Homo sapiens: one gene and its partners. The protein of the gene in region 3 purifies or fractionates together with the protein of the main gene of each other region. This does not show direct contact. Each region holds a gene or a part of one and is shown on either strand. Other genes may lie near its edges. The genes, in order: GALNT1, EIF2B3 and P2RX4.

Region 1 (3,750 bases), on a different chromosome or scaffold from region 3:
TTAAACGCAGTTATCACCAGCACGCTGAACAAAGGCTTCTCAGGTTTCAAAGTGCACACAAATAACTTGAAATCCTGGTAAAGCAGATACTGATTCAGTTGATGTGCAGCGGGGCTTCACATTCTGCATTACTTGAGTCTGAGGTGACAGGGATGCTGCTGGTACACCATCCACACTTGGAATAGCAGGACTCGGAGTACCATGGAAACATCCTCAAAGGATCATGTAAAATGTCAATTCCAATAGGGCAAGGACATTGTGTCTCCCTTATTCACCATGTACCCAGAACTTAAAACTGTGCCTCATAGACAGATCGCATTCAGTAAATATTTACTGACACAACAAATGTATGTATAATTTAGACCAGGGCTGTTCAACTGTAGCAAAGAACCACATTTAGCTATGGAACACTTGAAATGTGGCTACTGTGACCGAGGAGCTGAATTTTTAAAATTTAATTTTAATAGTCACATGTGGTTAGTGGCTCCCACGCTGGACAGTCCAGGTCTGGACACAGATGTGATGTAAAGAGGACTGGACTAACAAGGTCTAGGTTTGAATCCCAACTCTGCTGCTCAGATTGTGACCTGAAAAGTTGCAACTTCTTAGGGCCTTCACTATTTCATCTGTGAAATGACAAGACCTCCTAACTCTCAGCGTTCTTGACACGATTATAAAGCAATGTATTAAACATAAGATATGATCAAAGTGACATTCTCTGCCCTCCAGAAACAGTTCAGAAAGACTACTTTGCCTATTGCCCACTTGACCAAAAAAATGCCAAGTGAGTTTGGTAGACGGGTTGGTTAGCTCAGTGGCTTTGAGAATGAGGACAAGGTCACAAATCTGGGGAGTAAGGGAACCTCATCTAGCAAGGCTGACCAGATAAGAGAAGCAATGACAATGCAAATCATCCCAATTCCTGGTAAATGCTTAAATGGGCAACGTATTGATTATGGATGAGTAAATGACATCTCATTCATTCATTCTTCCAGGAAAAGCGGAAAAGCTACTACATTACCTAAAGCCCGCTACTTCCCAACCACAAACATTTGCTAATTTAGGTCCGGGTCCTCCTCGGGGGCAGCGGGCCGGGAAGCCCCCTCCCCCGCTGCCGGCGTGTCTTCCCCTCCCCCGTGGCGCCGCGAGGGTCAGGCTGGCACCGCGGTTGCAAGTACCACACGGCCGAACCCAGAAGCCATATTTAGCTTTATTTTTGTCAATAAAACAAACTTCCGTCTTCTAAAGAAAAACGGTTCTAACTCAATGTCAAACTAGGACGGAAACTCGCTGCTCGCCAAAGCTGCCAACCAGAGACGCCGCGTGTCCAACGGCACCGGGGTCCCAGACCCGAACCCGCGCCGAGCGTGCCCGCGCCCCGGCCCCAGGCAGCGCCGGCCACAAAGGGACCGGGGACGCGGCCGCGGCGGGGCCTCTTTCTCCACCTCCGACCCGCGCGCAGCGCTGCGGCTCCGGGACTGCCCAGCCGCGGGCGATACACTCACCTCGCTAGGCGCGCGGCGGCGGCGGCGGCAGGCGTCCTCCGGGCCGGCCGCGGCGGTCGCGGCCGGTCCCGCGGCCAGCGCGCTACTCTCGGGCCGCCGTCCGCCGCGCGCTCCTCGGCCACTGCCGGCGGCTCCCCCGGCGGGCGGGCGGGTCCGGCCGGGCCCCGCTCCGCCGCGCCCGCCCCCGCCTCCGCGCCCGGCTCGGGTCGGCGGCTACTCCGGGCGCCCCGCTCGCGGGCTCGGGCGGCGCTACTCCGGGCCGCCCCGCATGCGCGCCGCCTGCCCGCTCACTTGGGGCTCGTCGCGCGGCGGGCGCCGCAGGGCGCCCGCAGGCGCTCGGGCGCGGTCCTCCCTGCGCTGCGTGCTCGGCGGCAGCGGCGGCGGCGGCCCGTGCGGCTGCGCGGGGGAGGCGGGGGCGCCGGCGCTCACCCGGATGCGCGCCCCCTCCGCTGCGGCGAGCCCACCGCGGGGCCGCGACGCTCCCCTCGGGCTCGGGACTCCGGGGTCGGGCGCGGCGCCCCTCCCGGACCGACCGCCCAGTCCCGGCCCCCGCTCACACGGCTACGGGCAGGGCCGGGCCAGGCCGAGAGGTGCCCCCGACCCTGGGTCGGGACAAAGAGGCTGCCGCAGCAAGTTAAAGACAACTCGGGCTGTTGCGCGTCGAGCAGGTCACGGGGTGGGAGGAGATGGAGGAGCCCTCACAGCGGATCGGCTCCCGGGCCGAGCGCGGGGCCGCCCCAACCCGGTCGGCTGCCTGAGGCGGCCGCGAGCGCGGGAGCTGGAGCGCTGTCAGCCGCGCTGAGCCTGCGCCTGGCGACCGCGATGCAGGAGGCCCGGGACTGAGGGAGGACGGCGAGAGCGGAGGCCCGCGACCCGCACCGCCGGGGCAGGCACCCGGGTCTCGGGGGCAGCAACGCCGGGGCCCTTGCAGAACGGGGACTGTTTGGGGAAGTGGCTCCCGCACAGTGCCCGGAGAGGGGCCCTCCCTCTGTGCCCCCTTGGGAAACACTGCTTGGTACAATTCCAATACCCAGCTGTACCCTGCCCTGAAGATAGAAGACAAAACCCTGGCTCTGTCACTCACGCGAGGCATAACCAACCATTCTTTTAATAAATTAATTTTCTACTTAAATAATTCAGAGGTTTGTGTCTTATTGCTTGCCAACCAAGAGCTGCAATAAGAGATTACTTAATATTTAAGTGGTCCCACTTTTAAATTTATATTACCTCTCACATAACCAAAAGGCTGTCCGAAAAAAAAAAAAAAAAACCTGAAGATTATCTCTGGAATTTTAGTATCCTGTTTTTGCTTGTCTACATCTTCCAAGTATTCTAAAATAAAAGTTAAAAGTTACTATTTTAAAAGTACTTATATAATATTTTGAAACAAAGTCAATCATGACTAGCCTGTTACTGTTCCACAAGGAAACTTCACTTTGGAATAAAGTTGTCATCGTTAAAAAATACTCTTATCTTGGGAGAAAAGATTGGCAAATCATATATCTGTTAAAGGACTTGTAGCCAGAATGTATGAAGAACTCTTACAACTCAGTAATAAGACTAATAGTCCAATTTTAAATGGGCAAAACAATTGAATAGACGTTTTACCAAAGATATTTAAATGATCAACAATTACATAAAAAGGTGTTCAACATCATTAGTTAATAGGGAAATGCAAATTAGAAGCACAACAAGGAAGTTCTTGACACCCACTACACTGGCTGTAGTACAAAAGACAGACAGACAATAGCAGTGTTGGTGAAGAGATGGAGAAATTAGAACCCTCATACGTTGCCTATGGAAATGTAAAATGGTGCAGCCACTTTGGAAAACAGTTTTCCAGGTTTTTTAAAAAGTTACACATGAAGTATTCTATCACCCAACAATTCCACTCCTAGGCGTATGCCTGAGAGAACTGAAGATAAATTCATACAGTAACTTGTACATGAATATTAATAACAGTGTTATTCATGATAGCCAAGAAGTAGAAACAGTCCAAATGTCCAGAAACTGCTGCGTGGATAAAATGCAGTATATGCCATACAGTGGACTACTACTCAGTAAAAGGAACGAAGTAGTCATAGAAGATACAACATAGAGGAACCTCAAAAACGATAAGCTAAGTGGAAGAAGCTAGATGTGTAAGAGCCTGTATTGTAGGATCTATTTACAGCCATGCCCCGGTCAATGATGGGTCACCTGTACAATGGTGGTCCCATAAGATTATATGCAGCTGAAAAGTTAC
Region 2 (3,750 bases), on a different chromosome or scaffold from region 3:
GTGGAGGTTGCAGTGAGCTGAGATCACACCACTGTACTCCAGCCTGGGCGACAGGGTGAGACTCCAACATTTTAAATCTTCATTCAATACAAAGAGAGAGCTATTAAGCTACCACCCTTCCTATTGGAGGCAACTCTAATAATGGAATGAACACTGGATCACAAGACTGGGCCTCAGGCTTTGGCACCCTGATTTATTACATCTAAATATAGGACACCTCAAACTCAATGTGACCAAAGCTGAACTCATTATTTTAATGAAAATAAAATTCATTAAAACCTTTTCCTGGCCAGGCACGGTGGCTCATGCCTGTAATCCCAGCACTTTGGGAGGCCGAGGTGGGCAGATCACGAGGTCCTGAGATCGAGACCATTCTAGCTAACATGGTGAAACCCTGTCTCTACTAAAAATACAAAAACTTAGCCGGGCATGGTGGAAAATGCCTGTAGTCCCAGCTACACAGGAAGCTGAGGCAGGAGAATCACTTGAACCCGGGAGAGGTTGAACCCTGGCGGAGGTTGTAGTGAGCCAAGATCGTGCCACTGCACTCCAGCCTGGGTGGCAGCGTGAGACTCTGTCTCAAAAAAAAAACACCTGTTCCTTGTCTCCTATTCCTTTTCCTACTTAATGGCATAACTATCTACCTAGCTACCCAAGCAAAAAGTAGAGAGGATCACTAGACTTTAAAGTTCTGGAAGTCAGGGCCTGAGCTGTCTTTTCAATTCTGTACCTCCGTGTTTAATATATAACCTGGTACTTACATCAAAACAAAATTTAAAACATATATATATTGAATATCAGATAATATAAATATTACCTGGTACATAATAGATTCTCAGTAAGTACTGACTATGAGGCATTTAAGAGTCTCAATCTGCTCTTTCTGATATCTTTACAGAGTTCGTCTTGGATCATTGTGGACATCAGCTCCATAACAACAACACTTAGTGCTATCCTCTCAACCTTTTTCACACAGCAATAGAGTACTCCTACATTCCTTAAAGAAGGCAGTCTTCAGCCAACGAGTTCTAGTCACCCTCTCTCATTCTCATAACGCTGACAAATCATGGGGATCAAATCTCCTAAAAGTTTTATGAGTTCACAGCTCACTTTGTCATAGCTCACCTTCAAATCCAACACGCTCAAGCAGGTTCAATGGGTACCAAATTAAAGGTTTGTTCCCAACTGGAAGCAGAGGTTTGGGAATGCTGGAAGTTAGGTCTGTCATCCGAGATCCTCCACCTACTGCCATCACTACTGCTTGAAATTCCATTTTTACAAACTGCAAGTACAGAAAAAACAATTAACAGAAAAAAAACAATGTAACAAAAATCAAAGCACACATACTACTAGCCTATTTTTATTTAGGTTACTGATACCCACTATGTCAAATGCATAATTCCTAACTCTAGCAATCACAGTAAGAAAAGCTTAGCTGCAGATAAACATTATGTCTACCAATATGTATTCTCAGTTCTATCCTTGGTAAAAGTGGGAGGATAGGAATGCAGGGGCTTTGCCCTTGAGTTATTCACAATTAAGTGGAGAAGACAAATTCAGTAAATCACAATATATGTCATTAGTGCCACAGCAGAAAAATATCCAAGATACAGTGGGCATACAATAAAAGGAACACCTAGTTTTCATTGAAAACACAGAGAAGTTTTTATAGAAAGTGATGCTTGAGCTGACTCTGAAGAAGTAAGAGTTTACCAAGTGGACTTCTGATGTGTGAATTTTTATTCTTTGAAAATATTAGGCTGGGTGAGGTGGCTCACATCTGTAATCCCAGCACTTTGGGAGGCTGAGGTGTGTGGATCACATGAGCTCAGGAGTTCGAGACCAGCCTGGGCAACATGGCGAGACCCCATCTCTACCAAAAATACAAAAAATTAGCCAGGGGTGGTGGCTTGTGCCTATGGTTCCAGCTACTTGGGAAGCTGAAGTGGGAGGATCATTTGAGCCTGGGAGGCAGGTGTTGCAGTGAGCCGAGATTGAGATTGGACCACTGCACTCCAACCTGTGTGACAGAGTGAGATCCTGTCTCAAAAAAAAAAAAAAAAAAAGAGAGAAAAAAGAAAATATTAAAAGATGCCTGACTAGAATTAACAGCAGAAACACAAGCATGTTAGGCTTCTGAAAAGTATGAAATGACTTAAGACTCCTCCAATAATTCAGCCATCGGCTCATCTTATTCCTCCAATTTTTAAAGATATCACTATAAACACAAACGTAGGCTTGTATCTGAACCTAGATTTACAGAACACAATTATAAAAACAAACCAAACTGTTAATTCCTTTTTTCAAACTCAAGGTAATAAACAAACCTATTTGACTTTGAAAAGAATCTCTTTACAGAAACTACCACAGAACAGAGGCACAGTAGAAGGTCATAAATCTTTATTTATGTATTTATTTTTGGAGATGGAATTTCACTCTTGTTGCCAGGCTGGAGTGCAATGCCGTGATCTCGGCTCACTGCAACCTCCACCTCCCAAGTTCAAGCGATTCTCCTGCCTCAGCCTCCCGAGTAGCTGGGATCACAGGCATGGGCCACCATGCCTGGCTAATTTTGTATTTTTAGTAGAGATGGGGTTTCACCATGTTGGCCAGGCTGGTCCCAAACTCCTGACCTCAGGTGATCCACCGGAGTCGGCCTCCCAAAGTGCTGGGATTACAGGTGTGAGCCACGTGCCCATCCTATTTATTTATTGTTTATTTAGAGACAGAGTCTTGCTCCATTGCCCAGTCTGGAAGTGCAGTGGTAAGATCATGGCTCACTGCAGCCTCAACCTCCTGCACTAAAGCAATCCTCCTGCCCCAACCTCTGGAGCAGCTGGGACTACAGGTGGGTACCACCATGCCTGGCTTTTTTTTTTTTTTTGAGACGGAGTTTCTCTCTTGTTGCCCAGGCTGAAGTGCAGTGGCACGATCTCAGCTCACCACAACCTCTGCCTCCCAGGTTCAAGTGATTCTCCTGCCTCAGCCTCCCAAAGAGCTGGGATTATAGGCATGCACCACCACGCCCAGCTGCCCAGCTAATTTTGTATTTTTAGTAGAGACAGGGTTTCTCCACATTGGTCAGGCTGGTCTCGAACTCCCAACCTCAGGTGATCTGCCCACCTTGGCCTCCCAAAGTGCTGGGATTACAGGTATGAGCCACTGCACCTGGCCGCCTGGCTAATTCTTTTAATTAATTTTTTATAGAGATGGGGTTTCACTATGCTGCCCAGGCTGGTCTCAAACTCCTGGCCTCAGGCCTCCTGCCTGGGCCTCCCAAAGTGCTGAGATTAGAGGCATGAGCCACTGCACCTGACCGATCTTTACTGATTTAAACTGAAAGTACTTTCTCTTACAATGATGTAATTTTAAGAACAAATGTGTTAAAATGTAACGTTCAGAAGAAACAATCTATTCAACATCAAATTGCCAAATAATGTTGCAACTTTACTATAATTATTATTACTCCTGGGCCCAGCACATCAACATCTAAAGTGCAGCACTTAACACCTACTATACCCAAGGCACAAAGTGAAGGCTCCTGCATAACATTCACAATGTAAAGATATGGTCATGTAGATTCTAGCAAGCATTGCCTCAAAGTGTAATTTAATTTCATTTTGGTATTATATAACATCCACCACATCAAATGTTATTATGAAAAGAGCACTGGACCCTTAAGAGTCAAAAGATGAGCTGGACGTGGTGGCTCACGCCTGTAATCCCAGCACTTTGGGAGGCCCAGGCGGG
Region 3 (3,750 bases):
CCTCCGCCTCCCGGGTTCAGGCAATTCTCCTGCCTCAGCTTCCCAAGTAGCTGGGATTACAGGCATGCGCCAACACGCCTGGCTAATTTTGTATTTTTAGTAGAGACGGGGTTTCACCATGTTGGCCAGGCTGGTCTCGAACTCCTGACCTCAGGTGATCCACCCACCTCGACCTCCCAAAGTGCTGGGATTACAGGCGTGAGCCACTGCACCTGGCCCTTTGAGCACTTTCAATGCCTGTGACCTATGGGAATCACCAAGAGATAATACAAATTATAACAGTTACCACTGGAGTGTTTATAGGCACCAGGCACTGATCTAAGCTCTTTATATGTATTAACTCATTTAATCCTGACCACTTTATGAGACAGGTATCATTATTATTATTTCCATTTTACAGAGGAGGAAATGGAAACACAGAGAGGTTAAGTCACTTGCCAAAGGTCACACAGCTAGTGAGTGGCAGAGTCAGGATTTGAACTCAAGCCAGAAGCATCTGAAGCCTCTTCTCTCACCCACTATGCTCTACTCTAAGCTTGTCTAACCCATAGCACACAGGCCGCATGCGGCCCAGGATGGCTTTGAATGAGGCCCAACACAAATTCGTAAACTTTCTTAAAACGTTATGAGATTTTTTTTTGTGTGATCAAAAAAAGTTTGTTTTTTAGCTCATCAGCTATTGTTAGTGTTAGCATATTTAATGTGTGGCCCAAGATAATTTCTCCTTCCAGTGTGGCCCACGAAAGCCAAAAGATTGGACAACCCTAGGCTACTCTTTCTAGAAAAGAGAATTCTACCCTTTAAGGAACTTTTAAGAGTAGTTTCTTACTTTTCCCCCAAGAATTCTGGTCACATATATGGTTCTCTCCTCTGAAGTGGGACTATGACTACCAGTTTGAACAATTAAAAATCCAAAGGGGCTGGGTACAGTGGCTCACGCCTGTAATCCCAGAACTTTGGGAGGTCAAGGGGGGAAGATCATTTGTGCCCAAGAGCTCGAGACAAGCCTGGGCAACATAGGGATCTCTACAAAAAATAAAAAATTAGCCGGGCATGGTCAGTTTTGATTATAGCAAGATGGACAAAAGCAAAGCATTTACTGCTTTAAAGATTCTCGTGACTGAGACAGTGAATACGTCATAAGGAATCCTACAGAGCTGTGCTGTCCAATAAAAATCCCGGCTATTTGGGAGGCTGAGGTGGGAGGATCACTTGAGCCTGGGAGACGGAGGCTGCAGTGAGCTGTGATGCCACCGCACTCCAGCCTGGGCGACAGGGCAAGGCTCTGTCTCAAAAAAAAAAAAAAAAAAAAAACCATCTACAGGCATTAGCTTATAGGGGTTAGGACAGACTGGAGGCAGAGGTCTTGGTTCATGGCTCAGCTCCACCATTCACGAGGCATAACTTTGGCCAAGGTGCTTAACCTCATTGTGCCTCAGTTTTTCCCATCTATAATCTGGGAATGATAGTAGATCTTCACAGGATTCTTGTGAGGGTAAAAGAATTAATGTAGGTCAAATGTTTACAACAATGTTTGTGAGTCATCGTTGGTCACAGAGCAAGTACTGACACCGTGGAAATTGGCCAGTACTACAAATCAGAACCCCTCCCCTTCGAACTGCTGTTAAACATCTACTAGAGACTATCAGTGTTGTTATTTATAGAATCAGGAAATGCTAGGCTTCTCCTTCTTCTAAGTCCTAGATGCTGAGACTTCAGAAATTCACTGGTTTTGTTGAGGTCAGGAGTCCAAGACCAGCCTGGCCAACATTGTGAAACCCCGACTCTACTAAAAATACACAAAATTAGCTGGGTGTGGTGGTGGGTGCCTGTAGTCCCACATACTCGGGAGGCTGAGGCAGGAGAATCACTTGAACCCGGGAGGTGGAGATTGCAGTGGGCTGAGATCATGCCACTGCACTCCAGCCTGGGCAAGAGTGAGACTCTGTCCCTCCACCAAAAAAAAGAAAAGAAATTAATGGTTTTGTTACTTATGAGTGTGTGTGATCGAGCAGTCTCCAAGTTCATTGCCCAGCCTAGAGATGGGCTTTCCCCCCATGGGCTTTTCCCCTGACAAGTCCAGGGCTTCTAGGAATTCAGCTGCAGTGTAAGCTTCCATTTAATTCCAGTCTGACACACAAAAGCTTGGGGCAGGAAGACTGATGTACTCATCAAGTACAGTGAGTTGCTTAATTTAGAGACACAGGGTTTCATGCCACTCATTATCATGTGATTATTTCCTCCTCATATGATTGTTAACAGAGTTAGATAGATGAGAATTGCGTGTTCGGTCTTTTTTTGAGGGAGGGTTGCTGTAGGAGGAGACCACAATTTCACTAAGATGAGTTGCATCAAAAAGTTAAGAGATGAGGTTAAAAAAAAAAAGAGCCTTAATGCAGGTCCTGAGTCAGTTTTGATTATAGCAAGACGGACAAAAGCAAAGCATTTACTGCTTTAAAGATTCTCATGACCGAGATAGTGAATGCGTCATAAGGAATCCTACAGAGCTGCGCTGTCCCATAAAAACATAACGCGAGCCACATATTTTTTTTTTTGAGACAGGCTCTCGCTCTGTCGCCCAGGCTGAAGTGCAGTGGCACAATCTTGGCTCACTGCAACCTCCGCCTCCCAGGCTACAGCAATCCTCCCACCTCAGCCTCCCAAGTAGCTGGGTCCACAGGTGTGCGCCACTATGCCAAGCTAATTTTTCGTATTTTTGGTAGAGATGGGGTTTCACTACGTTGCCCAGGCTGGTCTCAAAATTCCTAAGCTCAAGGGATCCACTTGCCTCAGCCTCCCAAAGTATTGGGATTACAGGCGTGAGCTACCACAGGGCAAGACCCTGTAATTTAAAAGTTTCTAGTAGCCATGTCAAAAAGTAAAAAGAAATAGAAAGGGCTGGGCACGGTGGCTCATGCCTGTAATCCCAGCACTTTGGGAGGCCGAGGCAGACAGATTGCTAGAGCTCAGGAGTTCGAGACCAGCCTGGGCAACATGGAAACCTCATGATTGTAGAGATGAGATTTCTCATCTGTACAAACAAACAAACAAAAACACAATAATTAGCCAGTCATGGTGGTGTGCACCTGTAGTCCCATAATTCCAGAGGCTGAGATGGTAGAATCACTTGAGCCTGGGAGGCAGAGGTTGCAGTGCATTGCACTCCAGTCTGGGTGACAAAGCAAGGCGCCGTTTAAAAAGAAAAAAAGAAAAAAGAGACAGGAAAAATTAATTGTAATGATATATTCTGTGTAACCCAATATATCCAAAATATTTTAACATGTCATCAATAAAAAATGTTTTCATGTGATAGTGGTACTCTTTGTTTTTTTGAGACAGTGTCTTGCTCTGTTGCCCAGGCTGGAGGGTGGTGTGATCACAGCTCTCTGTGGCCTCAACCTCCCAGGTTCAAGCAGTCCTTCTGCCTCAACCTCCCAAATAGGTAGGCCTATAGGCGTGTGCCACCATGCCAGGCTAATTTTTGTATTTTTTTGTAGAGGCAAGGTCTCGCTATGTTGCCCAGGTTTGTCTCAAACTCTTGAGCTCAAGCGATCTTCCCACCTCAGCCTCCCAAAGTACTGTGATTTCAGGCATGAGCCACTGTGCCCAGCCTCTTTTTCTGTACTATGTCTTTGAAATCCAGTGTGTATTTTAAGGTTATAGCACATCTCAGTGTAGAGTAGGAACGGTTAAGTGTTCAACAGGTGCAAGTTACTAGTGGCTACCATACAGTGCAACACCACTATGGAT

Evidence for each region.
Region 1: the proteins of P2RX4 (region 3) and GALNT1 purify together in Homo sapiens (affinity purification with mass spectrometry; 3 studies listed by BioGRID and IntAct, with this or other methods). This does not show direct contact.
Region 2: the proteins of P2RX4 (region 3) and EIF2B3 purify together in Homo sapiens (affinity purification with mass spectrometry; 3 studies listed by BioGRID and IntAct, with this or other methods). This does not show direct contact.

The regions. Positions count from the first base shown.
Region 1 is NC_000018.10:35,579,618-35,583,367, reverse strand, and holds the start of GALNT1 (polypeptide N-acetylgalactosaminyltransferase 1), read right to left. Parts: upstream 1,629-3,750; 5' UTR 1,506-1,628; exon of another isoform or gene 1,500-1,505; intron 1-1,499. UniProt on the Homo sapiens protein: Catalyzes the initial reaction in O-linked oligosaccharide biosynthesis, the transfer of an N-acetyl-D-galactosamine residue to a serine or threonine residue on the protein receptor.
Region 2 is NC_000001.11:44,979,896-44,983,645, forward strand, and holds part of EIF2B3 (translation initiation factor eIF2B subunit gamma), read right to left. Parts: intron 1,283-3,750; 5' UTR 1,274-1,282; coding exon 1,126-1,273; intron 1-1,125. UniProt on the Homo sapiens protein: Acts as a component of the translation initiation factor 2B (eIF2B) complex, which catalyzes the exchange of GDP for GTP on the eukaryotic initiation factor 2 (eIF2) complex gamma subunit.
Region 3 is NC_000012.12:121,213,007-121,216,756, reverse strand, and holds part of P2RX4 (P2X purinoceptor 4), read right to left. Parts: intron 1-3,750. UniProt on the Homo sapiens protein: ATP-gated nonselective transmembrane cation channel permeable to potassium, sodium and calcium. CTP, but not GTP or UTP, functions as a weak affinity agonist for P2RX4.